Homo sapiens: one gene and its partner. The protein of the gene in region 1 purifies or fractionates together with the protein of each later gene. This does not show direct contact. Each region holds a gene or a part of one and is shown on either strand. Other genes may lie near its edges.

What was found.
Region 2: the proteins of UCP2 (region 1) and FLG purify together in Homo sapiens (affinity purification with mass spectrometry; 3 studies listed by BioGRID and IntAct, with this or other methods). This does not show direct contact.

What each region holds. Positions count from the first base shown.
Region 1 is NC_000011.10:73,979,984-73,984,119, forward strand, and holds the start of UCP2 (dicarboxylate carrier SLC25A8), read right to left. Parts: upstream 2,861-4,136; 5' UTR 2,738-2,860; intron 1,650-2,737; 5' UTR 1,493-1,649; intron 947-1,492; exon of another isoform or gene 689-946; intron 70-688; exon of another isoform or gene 1-69. UniProt on the Homo sapiens protein: Antiporter that exports dicarboxylate intermediates of the Krebs cycle in exchange for phosphate plus a proton across the inner membrane of mitochondria, a process driven by mitochondrial motive force with an overall impact on glycolysis, glutaminolysis and glutathione-dependent redox balance.
Region 2 is NC_000001.11:152,308,080-152,311,746, reverse strand, and holds part of FLG (filaggrin), read left to right. Parts: coding exon 1-3,667.

The DNA of each region.
Region 1 (4,136 bases):
TTTCCTCCAACTTAGGGGGATCCGCACTTACACCACAAGACAGGCAGGGATGAGGGGTCCAGGTCAGAGCTGTGAAGAGTGATAAAGTAAACCAAAAGCCCCATTTTGTTCTGAGTTGGAACCACACCCTCCTCCACTGCCCCAGGAGGAAGTGAGCCCAGCACCCTAGTGGGGGAGGGTGACCTGCTTCTTCCCCTGAGCTTATTTCTTTGACTTCATTGGAGCAGCTGCTTTGAGCCCCGCCTGACTGCCTTTGTTGCTGGGGCTCAGGTGAAAGGGCTGGCTGGTGAAGGGAGTCAGCTGTGAACACAGAGACCCATGGAAACAAACAGCTCACCCAGCTTCCTCTTGGGCTTCTCACTCCAGGTGGCTGGGGCAAGCAGGGAAATGAAGATACTCACCATAGCAACTACACTGGGACCTATAGAACAGGGCCTGACCTTATTCCTGTTTCCCTCCAGCTTGCCCACGAGGCTCAGTGAAGACTGGTGCTCAAATGACAGATTGGGTTGATGAAGGTGCCCTCGGACTCCCCAGATTCCCTGCTCTGACACCCCCTTCCCCCAGGAGGTGCTCCACAACTTTCCCCACCCCAACGCCCAGGGCACTGTATTAGCTCAATCCTCAGAGCAGCCCTGCAAGGTGGCTGCCCTTATTTCCATGTGAGATGAGTAAGAGCCACACTTACAGGCACCAAAGCTGGTAGTATTTGCTTTGCACTGCTGCCCAGCTCCTCAGTTCGTTCTTGCTGTTTTATCAGCCCCAGGCACAGACAGGGCCTTTCACAAGGAAAGTTCTCACAGGCTGATTAAACAGTACTGAGAAGGCTCAGGCAAATGGTATCCCTTCTCTGGGCATCAGAGATATGATGACATGAGTCTGTCACATTCCTGACCTTGAGCTGGGTTGCAGGATGTTGTGAAGGCCAGAGAAGAATAAGACCCAGCTGCTGCCCAAAGACAAGTGCACAGAGGTTCAGCTGCCATATTCTGAATGTTGCCTTGGGCTTGCCAAGTCAGGTCCTTCAGAGGGTGGGTAAGATGGCCCTACTAACAGCAATTAAAATGCAGGACTAGAAATAGTTAATCCTATTTTACAGTCCCCAGCAAATAACCAGTTTCAGAGCCGGGCTGATTACCAATCTCGGTTTCAGGGATAGTCAAAAGCTAGCATCAATATGAAGTTAGAACAATAGGTTCCTGTCCTAGCTCTTCTGCTGGCTCCCGGGATGACTTGGGGCCAATCACTGTTACACGTGGGCCTCAGTTTTCTCCTTTATAAAATGGGGACCAAGATCCTTGGCTTGTCCGAGTCAGCTGAAGGGCCAGAATGAGAGCGGGGAGGTGTGAGAGTGCTCTGTGAACTGGAAAGAGCCACTTCACTGTCGGGGGTGGGGATGGTAATTATTTTTGTTAATGCCCTGCTGACTCCTGCCCCTAGACCACAGGGTTAGGAGGCAGCAAGAGACCTCTTCCTTGGACTGGACTCTTACCCGGCTTTGTAAGGTCTCACGGTGAGGCCTCCAAGATCAAGCTTCTCTAAAGGTGTCCCGTTCTTCAAAGCTGCCAGTGGCTATCATGGCCCGATCCCCTTGGTTTTCCATAGAAAATGGGTGGGAGACGAAACACCTAATGGTCATACTATGTGTCCTGTGGGTGAGCAAAGGCAGAGAGTTTAGAAAGGGCCACCTGCCCCAAGACACACAAGCCCACCCAATCCATGCCTTGGAGGGGGATGGGGAACAGGGCCCAGGGACTGGTTAAGTGCACACACTGGAAAGGGGAAAAGCAGGGCGGAAAATGAACCTAGGTACACTCCCCACCCCCACCCCACCTGCTTAATATCACAAATTGGTTCTCATCCAGACTTCTGCTTTTGTAACACTCAGTACTCTATATAAGCACCCCCTAGCACAGTCATCAGACTTTGGTGAGTGGGAGAGTTGTGAGGGGGTCACGATGGGACAGAGACTCTCCGGGAATTGGCTAGGTCCCAGGTCGGGCTGTGAGGAGGTTGGAAGGGCTGGGAGCCGGCCCTGCAGAGGCCAGATTGAGCAGCTCAAAGCCCACTAGAAAAAGCCCCCAAGCCCTGGGAAAGGCGGTGCAGGAACACTGCCTGGAGCTGCCTGGTAAGGGAGAGGTCATTGTGGTCATCGCTGATGGTCCCCATCCAAGGCAGGGCTCGGCATCGTGGTGGAAAGGAGGGAGTGAAAAGGTGGAGGCTCAAACGACAGCCAACTGAACGGGAGAGGGAAAGAACAAAAGGGACTAAGAAAAAGAGAGAAGAGAAATAAAGAACCAAGGACAGAAAGGATTAGCACAGGCCGGACCCGGAGGCTCATGCCTAAAATTCTAGGACTTTGTGAGGCCGAGGCGGGCGGATTGCTTGAGCTCAGCAGTTCGAGGCCAGCCTGGCCAACATGGCGAAACCCCATCTCTACAAAACACAAAAATTAGCCAGGCGTGGTGGCGGGCGCCTGTAATCCCAGCTACTCGGCAGGCGGATCGCTTGAACCTGGGAGGTGGAGGCTGCAGTGAGCCGAGATCGCGCCACTGCACTCCAGCCTGGGAGACAGAGCGAAAGCCTGTCTCAAACAAACAAACAAAAACAAAAAATAAAACCGAGAGAAAGAAAAGAGTACAAACTTGGGTGGGAGAGAAGGTAAATGGAAGAGCGGGCAGCGCACGCAGAACAAGCGTGGGGGGCGCAAAGGGCGCAGGGCTGGGGCCAGGCTCACCGAGCCGCAGGGAGAACACGGCAGTGCGTGCGGCTGTGTCTGTCGGCTGGCGGAGGGCGCGTCGGACGAGCCGGGCGAGCGTGGACAGTCAATCCCAAGGCGCGCGCAGCTGGGCTTCGCAGTGGGGCTCCGCGCAGGCGGCGGCGCGGCTTAAGCCTCGGGGGCGGGGCCCGGGGTGGGGCCTGCGGGGCGGGGCCGGGCCTGCCAGCTCCTACTTGGGTGCGGAGACCCTGGAGCAGCCGCCTTTCCGCGGGGACCGCCCCGCCTAGGGTTCTCTCCATGACTTTCTCCACTCCCGTTTCCGTGCGTCCCATCACCGCGTTTACTCCTTCGTTCCCCGAGATGGTCACTCCCTTGCCACTCCCCGCCTCTGCCTCACACTCTCTCGGGCCGCCAACCTCTGTGAGGATGGCAAGACTGACCGCCAGAAACAAGTCTTGTCCAGTCACACACCTCTTGCCTTCCCAGCCAGGACGGTTTCTAACAGCGTCCAGCGGGGCCGTGTCTTAAGTGCACTTCCTCTTTTATGGGCCCAGCCCCCCTACGCTGGGCAAACTACCCACCCTCCTGCGAGCGAGCGCGCGGCTGGCTCCTGCAGGGCGGGACTGGGGCCTCGCGACCGGCCTCGCTGTCGATTGGTTACAGCCGCCGCGTTGTCGGGGGAAGGAACCAATCAGAACTGCAGCAACAGGTGGCCCGGCAACCGACAACAGCCGTTGGGCTCGGCTGGGGTTCGCGCCTTCTCCCCCGGTGGAGCGGCCTGGCGTTTAGGGACCAGGACACTAAAGGCCCCGGCGGGGCGGGAGCACCCAGCGTGACCTCACGCTCCTACACACAGACAAGCAAACGGGCCGGCCCCCGCACGTGACAAGGCAGAGCCGGGCCCAGGCCAGCTGCCTGTCCAGCCCTGGGATGAGAAAAGGCGTCAGGAGATGGACCGGGCCTGGTTCGCCTTTAATTGGCTGACCCGTCCTGTGGGGGTAACTGACGCGTGAACAGCCAACAATTGGGCCCTCTGGCCGGGACAAACACGTGCGTTTGGGGAGTAGAAGAAGGCTGGTATTAACCTCCATTTTACAATGAGGAAACGGAGTCCCAAAGACGTTCAGTCATCTTCCTGATATTCACACACTTACACCCTGGTCAGGCCGGCGCCATATGTGTTTTCACCAGCAGAAGGGACTGCCAGGGAACAGCTGAGGGGACCAGAGCTGGGATGGGCCTGGATAATTATAGCGGAAAGAAAAACACGCCGAGCGCATGGTCCTGGCAGAAGCAGCGTGGAAACAGAAGTCAAGGCAGATTATTTCTGCCATGAGGAGATCTTGCCATGTAGGAAAAAAGAAAGAAAGAGAGGAAAGAAAGACAGAGAGAGAGAGAGGAAAGACAGAAAGACAAG
Region 2 (3,667 bases), on another chromosome or scaffold:
CAGGCATTCCGCGCAGACAAGCTTCATCTGCAGTCAGAGACAGTGGACACTGGGGGTCCAGTGGTAGTCAGGCCAGTGATAGTGAGGGACATTCAGAGGAGTCAGACACACAGTCAGTGTCAGGCCATGGACAGGATGGGCCCCATCAGCAGAGCCACCAAGAGTCCGCACGTGACTGGTCAGGGGGAAGGTCTGGACGTTCAGGGTCTTTCATCTACCAGGTGAGCACTCATGAACAGTCTGAGTCTGCCCATGGGCGGACCAGGACCAGCACTGGACGAAGACAAGGATCCCACCACGAGCAGGCACGAGACAGCTCCAGGCACTCAGCGTCCCAAGAGGGTCAGGACACCATTCGTGCACACCCGGGGTCAAGGAGAGGAGGAAGGCAGGGATCCCACCATGAGCAATCGGTAGATAGATCTGGACACTCAGGGTCCCATCACAGCCACACCACATCCCAGGGAAGGTCTGATGCCTCCCATGGGCAGTCAGGATCCAGAAGTGCAAGCAGACAAACTCGTAAGGACAAACAATCAGGAGACGGCTCCAGGCACTCAGGGTCACGTCACCATGAAGCTGCCTCTTGGGCTGACAGCTCTAGACACTCACAGGTGGGACAGGAACAATCATCGGGGTCCAGGACAAGCAGGCACCAGGGATCCAGTGTTAGCCAGGACAGTGACAGTGAGAGACACTCAGACGACTCCGAGAGGTTGTCTGGGTCTGCTTCCAGAAACCATCATGGATCTTCTCGGGAGCAGTCAAGAGATGGCTCCAGACACCCTGGGTTCCATCAAGAAGACAGAGCCAGTCACGGGCACTCTGCAGACAGCTCCAGACAATCAGGCACTCATCACACAGAGTCTTCCTCTCATGGACAGGCTGTGTCATCCCATGAACAGGCAAGATCAAGTCCAGGAGAAAGACATGGATCCCGCCACCAGCAGTCAGCAGACAGCTCCAGACACTCAGGCATTGGGCACAGACAAGCTTCATCTGCAGTCAGAGACAGTGGACACCGAGGGTCCAGTGGTAGTCAGGTCACTAACAGTGAGGGACATTCAGAAGACTCAGACACACAGTCAGTGTCAGCCCACGGACAAGCTGGGCCCCATCAGCAGAGCCACAAAGAGTCCGCACGTGGCCAGTCAGGGGAAAGCTCTGGACGTTCAAGGTCTTTCCTCTACCAGGTGAGCTCTCATGAACAGTCTGAGTCCACACACGGACAGACTGCACCCAGCACTGGAGGAAGACAAGGATCCCGCCATGAGCAGGCACGAAACAGCTCTAGGCACTCAGCATCCCAAGACGGTCAGGACACCATTCGTGGACACCCGGGGTCAAGCAGAGGAGGAAGGCAGGGATCCTACCACGAGCAATCAGTAGATAGGTCTGGACACTCAGGGTACCATCACAGCCACACCACACCCCAGGGAAGGTCTGATGCCTCCCATGGGCAGTCAGGACCCAGAAGTGCAAGCAGGCAAACAAGAAATGAGGAACAATCAGGAGACGGCTCCAGGCACTCAGGGTCACGTCACCATGAACCTTCCACTCGGGCCGGCAGCTCTAGACACTCACAGGTGGGCCAGGGAGAATCAGCGGGGTCCAAGACAAGCAGGCGCCAGGGATCCAGTGTTAGTCAGGACAGGGACAGTGAGGGACACTCAGAAGACTCTGAGAGGCGGTCTGAGTCGGCTTCCAGAAACCATTATGGATCTGCTCGGGAGCAGTCAAGACATGGCTCCAGGAACCCCAGGTCCCATCAAGAAGATAGAGCCAGTCATGGGCACTCTGCAGAGAGCTCCAGACAATCAGGCACTCGTCATGCAGAGACTTCCTCTGGTGGACAGGCTGCATCATCCCAGGAACAGGCAAGGTCAAGTCCAGGAGAAAGACATGGATCCCGCCACCAGCAGTCAGCAGACAGCTCCACAGACTCAGGCACTGGGCGCAGACAAGATTCATCTGTAGTCGGAGACAGTGGAAACCGAGGGTCCAGTGGTAGCCAGGCCAGTGACAGCGAGGGACACTCAGAAGAGTCAGACACACAGTCAGTGTCAGCCCACGGACAGGCTGGGCCCCATCAGCAGAGCCACCAAGAGTCCACACGTGGCCAGTCAGGGGAAAGGTCTGGACGTTCAGGGTCTTTCCTCTACCAGGTGAGCACTCATGAACAGTCTGAGTCCGCCCATGGACGCACAGGGCCCAGCACTGGAGGAAGACAAAGATCCCGCCACGAGCAGGCACGAGACAGCTCCAGGCACTCAGCGTCCCAAGAGGGTCAGGACACCATTCGTGGACACCCAGGGTCAAGCAGAGGAGGAAGGCAGGGATCCCACTATGAGCAATCGGTAGATAGTTCTGGACACTCAGGGTCTCATCACAGCCACACCACGTCCCAGGAAAGGTCTGATGTCTCCCGTGGGCAGTCAGGATCCAGAAGTGTCAGCAGACAAACACGTAATGAGAAACAATCAGGAGACGGCTCCAGGCACTCAGGGTCGCGTCACCATGAAGCTTCCTCTCGGGCCGACAGCTCTAGACACTCGCAGGTGGGCCAGGGACAATCATCAGGGCCCAGGACAAGCAGGAACCAGGGATCCAGTGTTAGCCAGGACAGTGACAGTCAGGGACACTCAGAAGACTCTGAGAGGTGGTCTGGGTCTGCTTCCAGAAACCATCTTGGATCTGCTTGGGAGCAGTCAAGAGATGGCTCCAGACACCCTGGGTCCCATCACGAAGACAGAGCCGGTCACGGGCACTCTGCAGACAGCTCCAGACAATCAGGCACTCGTCACACAGAGTCTTCCTCTCGTGGACAGGCTGCGTCATCCCATGAACAGGCAAGATCAAGTGCAGGAGAAAGACATGGATCCCACCACCAGCTCCAGTCAGCAGACAGCTCCAGACACTCAGGCATTGGGCATGGACAAGCTTCATCTGCAGTCAGAGACAGTGGACACCGAGGGTACAGTGGTAGTCAGGCCAGTGACAGTGAGGGACATTCAGAAGACTCAGACACACAGTCAGTGTCAGCACAGGGAAAAGCTGGGCCCCATCAGCAGAGCCACAAAGAGTCCGCACGTGGCCAGTCAGGGGAAAGCTCTGGACGTTCAGGGTCTTTCCTCTACCAGGTGAGCACTCATGAACAGTCTGAGTCCACCCATGGACAGTCTGCGCCCAGCACTGGAGGAAGACAAGGATCCCATTATGATCAGGCACAAGACAGCTCCAGGCACTCAGCATCCCAAGAGGGTCAGGACACCATTCGTGGACACCCGGGGCCAAGCAGAGGAGGAAGACAGGGGTCCCACCAAGAGCAATCGGTAGATAGGTCTGGACACTCAGGGTCTCATCACAGCCACACCACATCCCAGGGAAGGTCTGATGCCTCCCGTGGGCAGTCAGGATCCAGAAGTGCAAGCAGAAAAACATATGACAAGGAACAATCAGGAGATGGCTCTAGGCACTCAGGGTCGCATCATCATGAAGCTTCCTCTTGGGCCGACAGCTCTAGACACTCACTGGTGGGCCAGGGACAATCATCAGGGCCCAGGACAAGCAGGCCCCGGGGATCCAGTGTTAGCCAGGACAGTGACAGTGAGGGACACTCAGAAGATTCTGAGAGGCGGTCTGGGTCTGCGTCCAGAAACCATCATGG